Linked DNA regions of Homo sapiens. The protein of the gene in region 3 interacts with the protein of the main gene of each other region in a biochemical or structural test. Each region holds a gene or a part of one and is shown on either strand. Other genes may lie near its edges.

What was found.
Region 1: the proteins of HOXD9 (region 3) and MEIS1 form a complex in vitro, tested with the Homo sapiens proteins (one study listed by BioGRID).
Region 2: the proteins of HOXD9 (region 3) and PBX1 form a complex in vitro, tested with the Homo sapiens proteins (one study listed by BioGRID).

Annotation. Positions count from the first base shown.
Region 1 is NC_000002.12:66,508,124-66,511,773, reverse strand, and holds part of MEIS1 (homeobox protein Meis1), read right to left. Parts: intron 1-3,650. UniProt on the Homo sapiens protein: Acts as a transcriptional regulator of PAX6. Acts as a transcriptional activator of PF4 in complex with PBX1 or PBX2. Required for hematopoiesis, megakaryocyte lineage development and vascular patterning.
Region 2 is NC_000001.11:164,810,673-164,814,322, reverse strand, and holds part of PBX1 (pre-B-cell leukemia transcription factor 1), read right to left. Parts: intron 2,334-3,650; coding exon 2,174-2,333; intron 1-2,173. UniProt on the Homo sapiens protein: Transcription factor which binds the DNA sequence 5'-TGATTGAT-3' as part of a heterodimer with HOX proteins such as HOXA1, HOXA5, HOXB7 and HOXB8. Binds to the DNA sequence 5'-TGATTGAC-3' in complex with a nuclear factor which is not a class I HOX protein.
Region 3 is NC_000002.12:176,121,219-176,124,968, reverse strand, and holds HOXD9 (homeobox protein Hox-D9), read right to left. Parts: upstream 2,251-3,750; 5' UTR 2,201-2,250; coding exon 1,384-2,200; intron 1,036-1,383; coding exon 794-1,035; 3' UTR 32-793; downstream 1-31. UniProt on the Homo sapiens protein: Sequence-specific transcription factor which is part of a developmental regulatory system that provides cells with specific positional identities on the anterior-posterior axis.

The DNA.
Region 1 (3,650 bases), about 110 Mb from region 3:
CTGGGCATTCAAATCCCACAGTCATTGACATTGACTTGTGAGAAGATTCATTTAAGATATCAACTATTTCCACAAGTGATCTATCTTAAGACTAGTTAAACTAGGATGGGGAAATGTAGGTAATCCATCATATAAGCAGTTTGACATAGGAATGCTTCAAATAAAATATAATTTTTCTTGTAATAGAGAGAAAGCATCAAGTTTAGTAAAGGAAAAACCCCTGACATAGTTTCTTAATTAAAAAACAATTACTGTGTAAATCAAATAAGGTAATGCTAAATTAATAGTAAATTAGAATTGTATTACACTAATAATTCAGGCAGTTTCTAAAATTCATGCTAGGTAAACCTAGCATTTTTCACACTGAAAAATCACCTGCTAACATATTCCTCTATATTGGATCCTATTTTTCTATTGATTTTTATTATAACATTTACACTCTTTATTCTAGAAAATATTTTGGCTCTGTGACATAATGAAATTTAAAAAGTTAGTATTTCTTTTTTAAAATGCCATGTTTAATAAGAAAAAATAAAAATTTAACCCATATAACTGTTCAAAATAAGTTACAAGGTACAAATGGAAAGTAGGTATTTTTTGCCTTGGCATCAAAGTCAAAAAGGAAAACAACAAAGGACAAGACCCATTACACTAAAAAGTAGCTTAGCTCGGTCAACCGTTCTCTTAGAAACCGACAGGTTGATCTGGGCCCAAACGGAAGAGCTATAGCAGCCAGGCTTAGAAATGAGGTAAAAAAAAAATACACCCAAGAGCACATTCACTGGGTTAAATAAGCCACTGGAGAGCCAACTACACGACCCAAAGAACCTGAAACTTTGGTAAGACAAGTTTCCTGCACATAGCCTCAGGTTCATTTCCATGGCTTCATGAATTTCTGTATTTCTCATTTCTGTTATTAGGTCCTACATAAAAAAATAATTCTCTAGTTCAATTTCAGTTATTTCTGTCTAATCTATAGTAGGTATGTTGCAACTAATCAACTGTTTTTAACAGCTCCCTCAGCAGACCCATCTCTCTCCTGTGAAAAAAAGAAAAGAAAAGCATTCCTCAATTTTTTTTTTTCAATTGCCTTAACTTGTACTGAGATGAAGTTTAGAAAGTTTGTTGGGTGAGGAACAAACTAATTCCAACATTTCTACTATTATTACAGAATATGCTATAAATGCAAAACTTTTGCAAAACTTTTCTGATTCTAAACTTTTATTCATTAAAAATCTGTAATTTTATTATATTTAAAATCTATCTGTTTCATTAAAAGTTTAACAGAAACATATCTTGTGTTCACTTGGAAAAGATCATGAAAACCCACCACTCCAAAGCCATTGTTGTATCAGTGAAGAAAATGCTATGTTCTCTGACTGGGCCAAGGTCATGTACCCTGGCATGGAACTACTGGGGTCTGTGCTGTTCCAGACCCCTACATCTGTAAATCAGCACTCCTTCCACCCAACCAAACTCTTTATTTGCATAACCAAGTATTTTATGAGAAGTCCCCTTGGATTTGCCTAATAAATTCTTTGAAAGTCCAGTATTTAAACAGCCTTTTTATTCAGAGAAGCAGTTTACCATATAAAATAACAATTCATTAAAGAAACATGAGAAAAGAAAACAACTCAACAGCATTTAAATTTTCAATGGGCTAATCCACTTTCAATATGCAAAAGGTAACCAAGGAAAAGACACATACGACCTGATCATTGATTAAAAATGAAAAGCTTATAACCTTACAATACTGTTTTCACCACCTCCCCATGATTATTTTCCACCTTTAAAAAAAATAGCCTTTTTATCCACCTCAAACCCCTTCAGATTAATTTAGCAAGCAATGCATAGTGCCTGCCTAGAAGAGAATTCATTGATAATTTATGGAAATATCTACTATAATCCAGCAGAGATGACTTTTTTCCAGCTTTGTGCATCAATAGATAATCAAGGCCTTAAAGCAACCTTAGCTTCCCATTACCTCAGGCAAAAGAATTCCTGAAAGCGTGCCTTGAGGGCACCTGAATTATATACTCCATTAGGAGAGGAAGGCTTTCTGCATTCCATGTGTAACACTCACCAGAACCTTTCCTGTTTATTTCTGCTGTATGAAAGCAGAAGCATTAGGAACAGAATTTTTTAAGTGAAGACTTATGTAGATACAATGGAGAAACCTTTCAAGCAGGAGCCAGATCACCCCCTTCAGTCCCTGGCAGTGACCTCTCCTGAATAAAAGGTTTCTATTACATCATTAGCTCAAGCCAAAAACAGCCTTGGCTTAATGCACAGTTTGTTCTTCCTACTGTTTTTAGGCAAATACAGCTACTTTACTCCCATCTGGGAGGGAAATTACACTGCTGGGTTGTAATCTAAGACAAGATTTTCATTGGAAGCAAATGCTTTCAATCCAGTGTAAATACTGGTGCATGTTCAGAAAAGCCTAAAACAATAAACCCTGCTCCTTTCCGACACAAGTTAGGGAAATGGAGAAGATGGGGAAGGAGAAGAGCATAATAAAACAGACTATTCTAAAAGCAAACACTTTCATAGATTTTAATAAATTGTTTAACCTCTTCCACTTTCTAAAATTGAAAATTGATCTGGAAATGTCTCAACCTCAGAGGAAAGTCTAAATGGTCAATTGTACCTTTAGCATTTCCATTCACTCCGCAATTTGATATAGTCACCTCAATGTGGTCTCTCGAGAATTTCTTTCCTTTTTTACTTTTGAGATCACTAAACAAACTTGGAGAACCGCCGGCCGACCACACGGCAGCAGGCAGCAGCTCTGAACCACATTTGTAAAATGTCAGCAGTGACTTCATTCCTGGAGCTGACTTCTCCTGCCGCCAAATGAAGGCAAACTGAAAAGGTGGAAATAATCATAAAAATGATGCTAGTCCATAAACAAGCTTACAGCCTCATTAGGATAGCAGTAGGCTCCAGTGGGTGATTTATGCTCGTTTTGCTGATGCTATGAGGAAATGCCATAGGGCGACTTTAGCCAACCGCTAATGGTTTCTGACAGCTTCTTAGCAACTAGTGCAAGCAACGTTGTGGCGTTTGCTAGTGACAGAAACTGAAAATGTCATATTATCTGCCCATGTGTCATGAAGTCCGTGTGGCAATTAACTAGCAGGCCAGTGACTGAGGGGCCAGAGGCTCCTGAAAATGGCCTTTGGCTATGCAGAGGCAGCGGCCGGGGCTGCGCACACACAGGCCGCACATATGCAACATTCTAATGCAGAAATCCTCTCCCTGCAACTTCCTGGGCTCTGATGAGACCGGGCCACTCCAGTCTCTTTTTTCCCCCTCATTGAAGTGAAACTCTGGGTTCCTCTCTCTCTAGGCACAGGCTCGGGCATTATAAGACTCTAAAGCAATCTGCTTTGATACGATTATCGGAATGGCTCCTTAATTGGCAATACCTGGTTCTGTGCCTCTTGGATGCTGGACTCAAAGGTGCTAGCTACAGTACTTTGCTACTCTCTCACAAATTAGTCTAAAAGGATTTAAGATCACTGGAGCAGACTCATTGCCTGTCAGATTTCAAGGAGCAGAGGAACTCTGCACAGCAACAAGACACTATTTAAAAAAACACCAGGTTTCTAACGAGCAGGGGGAGAATCTTGGCCACACTTTTCAGT
Region 2 (3,650 bases), on a different chromosome or scaffold from region 3:
TTTTCACATATTAACCTCTTATTTAAAATTTATTTCAATTATCATTTATCTTTCCAAATTATTGAAGAGCAAGTACATAACATAATAAACACCTTATGTGAAAAGTTTGAACATTTTAAAGTTCTACTTTACCTGTGTGGATGATTTAGGTTGGTTAAGAGCAAAAGAAAATACAGAAAAGCCCATTTATAACTTTTCCTGTTAAAATGTTTATCTTTTAAAATTCCATGCTATTGCACACATACAATAGTATTTTCTTTTGCCTCTACTTTAGAAAAAGCACTACAAAGGGGTTCCTGTGCAGATTATTTCCAACAACTTACGCACAATTGGAAGGCTTAGCTCAAATTTTCCATAATAATTTACTTTGTGCTCAGAATAGTCACATGATGTTTAAGCCACCAGAAAAAAATTCCTTAGAAAACTGTAATCATAGTCTGACATTCCATAAGAGGCAACCATATTTCTTAAACACAGAATAGAGGGTTAAAATGCTTATTTTTCTCTTTTAAGGGCTTTAGGAAAGAATAAATAGTTACAAATTTAGTAATGAAGAAAGTCCACAGGGCTTTTCTAAGGACTAGTCATAAATCATGCTAAGCCATCTGCGATGCAGATATACCAGGGACAGGAAAAAGTCATTTTGATATCGTTTTGCATTATGATAACCTTTGCAGGAGTGTTGAGTGCATTTTTGCTAATGTTGACAGAATTGTACTTCTTCCAAAGAGACAAGTGAAAATGTCTGCCTAGCAGCACAGTTCAACTGGTGTTGTTGGGTCTGAAATTCTTAATAATTGACCAGATGGAGAAGATGGAACTCTCTCTGGTTATTGAACCTGTTAGCTTTGATCCCTTGTCAATCACACCATGATGGAGGAAGAAAAAAACAAAATATTTCTAAAAAAGTAAATATGCTCCTCATAGGAATCTAACCTGCAGTGCTGGGAAAATTAAAACTGGATTGAATTCTACATTGTTTTATTATATCCATGTTGAAAAAGCCCAGGCTACTCTTCATGCATGATTCCATTTAGATAAAAGAAGGCCACAAAAGAAGTGCTGGGTATAGCCCAGTGACTTGGAGGACCTTATCATAACAAATTTATGCATCTGGAAGCTCACAGAAGACATCAGTCTGTGGAACCCTACATTTCTCCAGTAACGAGTCGCTGTAAGAAAACTTATTTTAGTGGACAAACAAGCTTTGTGGTCAAAGATACCACATACTCTAAAAAATGTTAGACATTAGGTTTGTAATCATATTACGATCAAACATATTTAAATTGGTAACCTTTTAAGTTAGAATCATCAGTTTTCTTAGCTGTGCACCCTAATCAAAGTCAAACCAAACTTATTTAATGAGAAAATACTTGTCTTTCCTTTACCAAAGGGAAAAAAAAATTACCACATGCCTTCCATAGCATACAAACACAAAGGTTATATTTTTTGCATTATTAACTACATTTTTTCACATGTAGAAATTCTGAACTGATGACACAAGGCACACCCCAAAATATAGTATTTTGACCTAAACTCTTAAATTAGTGATATAATGCATATTTCCTGAAACAAAGCCTATTACATAGCTCATGACCGATAATCATAAAGAAGACCAACAAAAAACAATAAAGAACAACAACTATAAACAATATATAGAAATATTCATAGCCTGGCTTTGCATACCAAAGCATTCTAATAAGATATTTGCTAGAAGAGTAAATATTTCTGCATAGAATGCATGCTAATAAGTGACCCAGACATTATGTTGTTGGAACAGCAAAACTGACAAGGATAAAAGCTTTATATAAAACAGGCCAAATGACAGAATCCCAATAGACTATCTCTAAGCACTATGTCTAACTTACTTATTGATATCCCTGAGAGGAGAATTTAGAGGTCTCTTCAAGCTAACCAATTTACTTTGGTCTTAACTTAATAGACAAATTAATGCAAACCTCCAGACAACCCACGTTGTAAAAAGTCTAACAGATTGCTCTTTGGAAATGAAAGAAAGAGCCCAAAGTGACATTAACATCCAAAAATACAATCAAATACAGAAATTAACCAATCAAAAGCCTAACAAATTAAAAGAAAATCCCAATGTAGGAACAGCCAGTATAAAAATGGAGAACAATTCCTTCCCCCACCCCCAATCAAAGAAAAAACTAACCAGCCGAGTTGGGAGTTGAGGGCGAGTTAGCTTGGCTTCCATGGGCTGACACATTGGTAGCAGTGACAGCTGTTTTGGCAGCATAAATATTGGCTTCCTCTTGAAATTTACCTATGTTCTTCTTGTACCGGATTCGCTTATTTCCAAACCAGTTTGATACCTAGAGTAGTTTAAGAGAAGATGAGAAAGTTCACATTTCATCCTTCAGAAACATTGCAGAAGAAAAAAAAGGCTTTATGGGAGAGGTGAAGAGGTAAGCTAATTGGTCTTATCCTATAATAATTTGGCAACATCAGTAAAAAGATCTGAAGTAAGAGCTTCAAAAGGACAACTACATAAAATGCGATTCTCTTGTTTAATATAACTGAAATTTAGCGAAACCACTGTGACAAAAATCTTCCTATAAAGGAGCTGCTCATTTAAGCTAGAACCCTTTTAATTTAGAGCAAGCATTTTAAATTTGCTTACATCTTCAGTTATGACACTAAAATATACCTAACATTTCAGGAGAAATGCCCCTAGCGTTTATCAATGTGAAAGCTGGCTTGATGCCATCAAGATACACAGATCTTTAAATGTCCATATAGGTGCTTTCGTGTGATAGATTAATTGCAAATTTTTAGAAGTTACATAACTTTAATGTGGACTGAGATTCTTAGCTGTATTTCACTATAGACCTTAGGATCAATATAATTCAATCTACCAGATTTCACTGACTATTTTGTGTAAAGCTTAGTGTTATCTACATAAGGAAAAACTGTAGCATACAAATGATTATCCCCTTGAATTCTAGGGTTTAAATGTTAAAGCCAGCAGACACAATAAACCTAATTTACTTTCATTTGTTAATTTATTTCCTTCATGTGGTTCGCAGCAGGTGTCTTGGCTTGATCTGGTACCTCTGCTCCCTTCATACCAAGACCTCTGCCAGACACAAGTGGAGACACAGTTAAATTCAAGTTTTACCCCCATAATTCCTGCCCGGGGAAGGAAAGTTTTATATCCCACATTCCAGATATGATTTTGAACTAAAATGTCGATGTTTTTATATAATTACAAAACAAACTATGAATCTGGTGAGGGAAGGGGGAGTTGATCCCACATGTACCACAGCTTACATATCATTGATATTTAACTCCCAACGACGGCAGATAAAGAAAACTGTTGCAAAACTATACTTAATTTTTTAAACGCATTAACAAACTTAAAACATCTTATAAGGATAGCACTGAAAGGCTTATACAGTTTATACTACAGCAGAAATGCCAAGCCTTTCTTTTTTAAAAAAAAATCAGTCTGTACCACCACAATATTAAACAAAAAAGAAAAAAATTCAATAAGAAAATGCTTTATTTATTGTAAACACTGATGTCTACAGAAAAAGAGGTAAACTGGAGGAGGAAGGACACTTTTGGGTGTATTTCAGGATCACTGCATATCTAGTTTCACTTTGAAATTTATGTTTTTCTTGACATAA
Region 3 (3,750 bases):
GCAGAGAGGCAGAGAAAGCAGGCACACAATGTTTAGGGCCAGCGTCTGGGCTCCATTTGATCAGGTCAGCATTTATTAGTAGGAAGCAGTAACATTTACAACTGGTCCTCGGGCAGGAACCGGGAGGGCCACCACCCGCGGCCGCCCACGCGAGCCCAGCCTTCAGGGGAGAGAGCAGCGCGTCCAATGCACTGAGGACAAACCCCAACCCGCCCGAGGCCCTGGGCTCCTCTAAGCCTCACTGGAGATCTCCACCGAGGTCCCGCGTGCTCCCTGAGGAAAGGGGGCTTTCGCAACTGGTGGGCAACCCCGCCGGGCTTCACCGTGGGCTAGCAGCCGGGGTGTCCGCACTGTTGTCGCTCTGCCTTCATTCTTGGAATTGGGGCGCACTTGGCCCCTGTTTGGGCAGTGCTGGGGGTGAGGGGACTAAACTACAGCACTTTTCAGAAACATGGGGGACATTTACACAAGAGAGGGCTCCCCAAGCCAGCTTGCACTCACAAAATATAGCATTTCTTAAGGAACCAATGGAGCAGGAAAGAGAGGGAGTGGGATAGGGCGAAACCCCAAAGCCACTTGGTTTTTCCAACACGTAAACGAGCAAATACAGAGTCCCCCAAATACCTCAGAGACCAACCACACAGTCACTTCTATCTAAAAAGAAAAAAAAAAAGAAGAAGAAGTCCAAGTCGCTGGAGAGTTTCTGGAAATCAAGCACCAAACACCCACAAAGGAAAACAGCAACAACAACAAATCCGCTGCCCTTGAGCGCTCCCGCCAGCACCGCGCCGGGTCAGTCTCCTTTGGGGCATTTCTCCTTGCTCATCTTTTTCATTTTCATCCTACGGTTCTGAAACCAGATTTTGACCTGTCTCTCTGTTAGGTTGAGAATCCTGGCCACCTCGTAGCGCCGGTCCCGGGTGAGGTACATGTTGAAGAGGAATTCTTTCTCCAGCTCAAGCGTCTGGTATTTGGTGTAGGGACAGCGCTTTTTCCGGGTGGAGCGAGCGTGGATCCAGTTCGCGGCGGGGTTGTCTACAAAGAGGGAGGTTTGGAGACGGGGAGAGAGGAGAGGAGGGGAGGCAGGGAGAGACCACAGGGTGGGGAAGAGAGGTCGTTAAATTAATTTCACCAAGGATGGTCGCTTTTCACAACTTGTGGGGAATTATCATAAAAAGCCTTAATGCTCGCGCTCTGTTTACCGTACTAACTGAGCGCCCAGGGTAGGTGGTTATGGGAAGCTCTTTTTATGGATGCATGTTGTTCGCCTAGGCTTGGGTAGGCGTCTAGACGTTTTTATAGGTTAGTAAAACTATCAGTTTTGCACATTCGAGCCTTACAGGTTTCAGCAATAAATCAGGGGGCAATTTCTTTTGCACTTACTTGGGTCAAGTTGCTGCTGCTGCGGCTGCGAATGCTGCTTCTCCTCCTCCTTCAGCGAACAGCCTGGGATCGGGTGGTCGCTGCAAGCTGAGGGCTCCGACGAGCCGCCCGTCCCAGTCGCGGCCCCGATCCCTGCCCCAGGCCCGGTTCCCCCCGTCGCCGCTGCCGCCTTCTCCTGCAGGAACGAGTTGCACGAGAACTCGGGGCCGCTGCTCCCCTGGGACTCCCGGGCCACGGAGCACTCAGTCCGTTTGGAGGAGGAGGATAAGGAAGTGGAGGAGGAGGAGGTGGTGGAGGCGGCCGTGGCGGGGGCCGGGGCCGCTCGGGTTTCAGGCTTAATCCCGTAGTGGCGCCCGTTGGCTGGGCCGCTGGGGCCAGGGCTGGGACCGCGGCCCGGACCGCCGCCTCCACCACCACCGCCACCGCCCGCACCGCCCGGGAAGCCGGGCAGCGGCTCCATCCAGGAGCGCACGTAGCGGCCGGGCTCGGAGGCAGAGGCGGCCAGGGGCGGCGGGGGAACGTACGGGTGGTAGAGGCCGCTCATCGCCGCCGCTGCCGGGGGCTGGGAGGGCACCGCGGACCACGAGGCAGAGAACACGGCCGATCTGGGGGCAAAACTACACGAGGCGAACTCGGCGGCGGTGGCGGCCGGGCCATCAGCCACACCTGCAGGCCGGCCCTGCGCGCCTGGCCCCGGCGGCCCGAAGCGCGCCGCGAACACCTCGTCGCCCTCATGGCCTATAAGCGAGTCCACGTAGTAGTTGCTGAGGGTGCCACTGGAAGACATTTTGAGGCGTCCCGCACTCCCACCCAACATTACACTGTCCGCCGCCGAGCAGCTCCCCGCCGGCGCCCGAGCCACCGACTAGTTCGCAGGCTGCAGCCTCCACCATTGGTCGCGCGGCCCACGTGATCATATTTACCAATACCGGGAGTAAATCAGTCCGCTAAACTGGGGGCTGCTGTGATTAAAAAAAAAATCATCAACATAAGCGCCGCAATTAGAGCCCGCAGGCCCAGGTCCATGTGCCCGGCTCGGCCCGGCCCGACCTGGCCTGGCCCGCCCAGCGGCTGCCAGGACCACAGACGCGACCGCATCCAGAGGAGGCGCTGGGGACTATTTGTTCGCTTCTTCTTGCAGCCCTCGGTCCCGCAGTCGGGCCCCGTCGCTGACTCTCCAGCTTCCGAGCCGCGGGCGGCGAGTCCAGGGCACACGGAGCGGCCGCGGGGGCGCCAGGCCGGTGTCGCCCGAGGCAGGCGGGCCCTCGGGGCGGCCCCTAGCGCCCGAGGGGAGCTGTTCTCCCCTCGCCTCTCTCCCTACTCACACCCACCCCTCCCCACACATCCCCACACACACGCTTGCTCACAGCTTGTCGTGTTGTTTAAAACAGGTGGAAGACCTCTGTAATGATATTATGCCTTTCAATAAAAATTTTATGAGGTGTATTTGATTATAGATTAATGTGTCCCTAATAAAACGGACGGATGGAGCAGATCGGAGGGCCCCCTCCCCCTGCCACACTCACACACGCCCGCGCGGCCACACACACCCCGACGTGAGGCTGGGCACACGCCGCGGCCCGAGGGGCGAGCCGGGGCGCGGCGGTGGAGGACACAGAGGGGCTTCTGCCTGCCCTCGGAAGGGCGGGCGGCCGGGCGAGTTGGCGCAGCACGGACAGTGGCGGCCAGGGTGCTTCGTCTTCTCCGATGATGCTGGAAAGGCCCTGGAAGAGAACACGCCACAGGGCAGAACCCAAATGCTAGAGCAGCTTGCTCCCGCCCGCCGCCTCAGCCCTGCCTCAGCGAGTCTCCCCGGGCAGGGCCGCTTCGCGCGGTTCGCACTTAAAGGCCTCGGAGGAGACTCCCAAAATGTCTAAAAAATTCGGCCGAATGGCTAGGTCCTTGGGACACTCCCTTCTGATTTTTTTCCCCCTACAGAGGTGAGGTTGAGCAGCCTTGAATCTGAGGGAAATGCCCATTGTCACTCCCAAATCCATGGTACAAAGCCTCGGAAGCCCGGCTGGGAGCCCAGACAAAAGCGGCCGGGGCGCCGGCAGCGGAGGGCATATTCCTTGCTCTACAAGTTGCCCAGCTCACCCTTGGAGGGCTCCCGGCCCACCTCCAGCCCCGAAAAGGAAGCGGGTAAATGGCTATTTATGGCCTGATTGATTACCTTTGCCAATAGCTTTCTGATTTTGTTCCAGATGGGATGCCTTTGCCTTGTAGCTCAGGCTTTCCTCGGATACATGGCCCGCTATCAACAGCTAATGGTATTCCCCACATGATCGGAGAAACGGCTAAATAAAAATTACCCTCCTCCTGCCCAACCGGTGTTAAGTCTGGGGCAAAGCTATTACAACGTTTTCA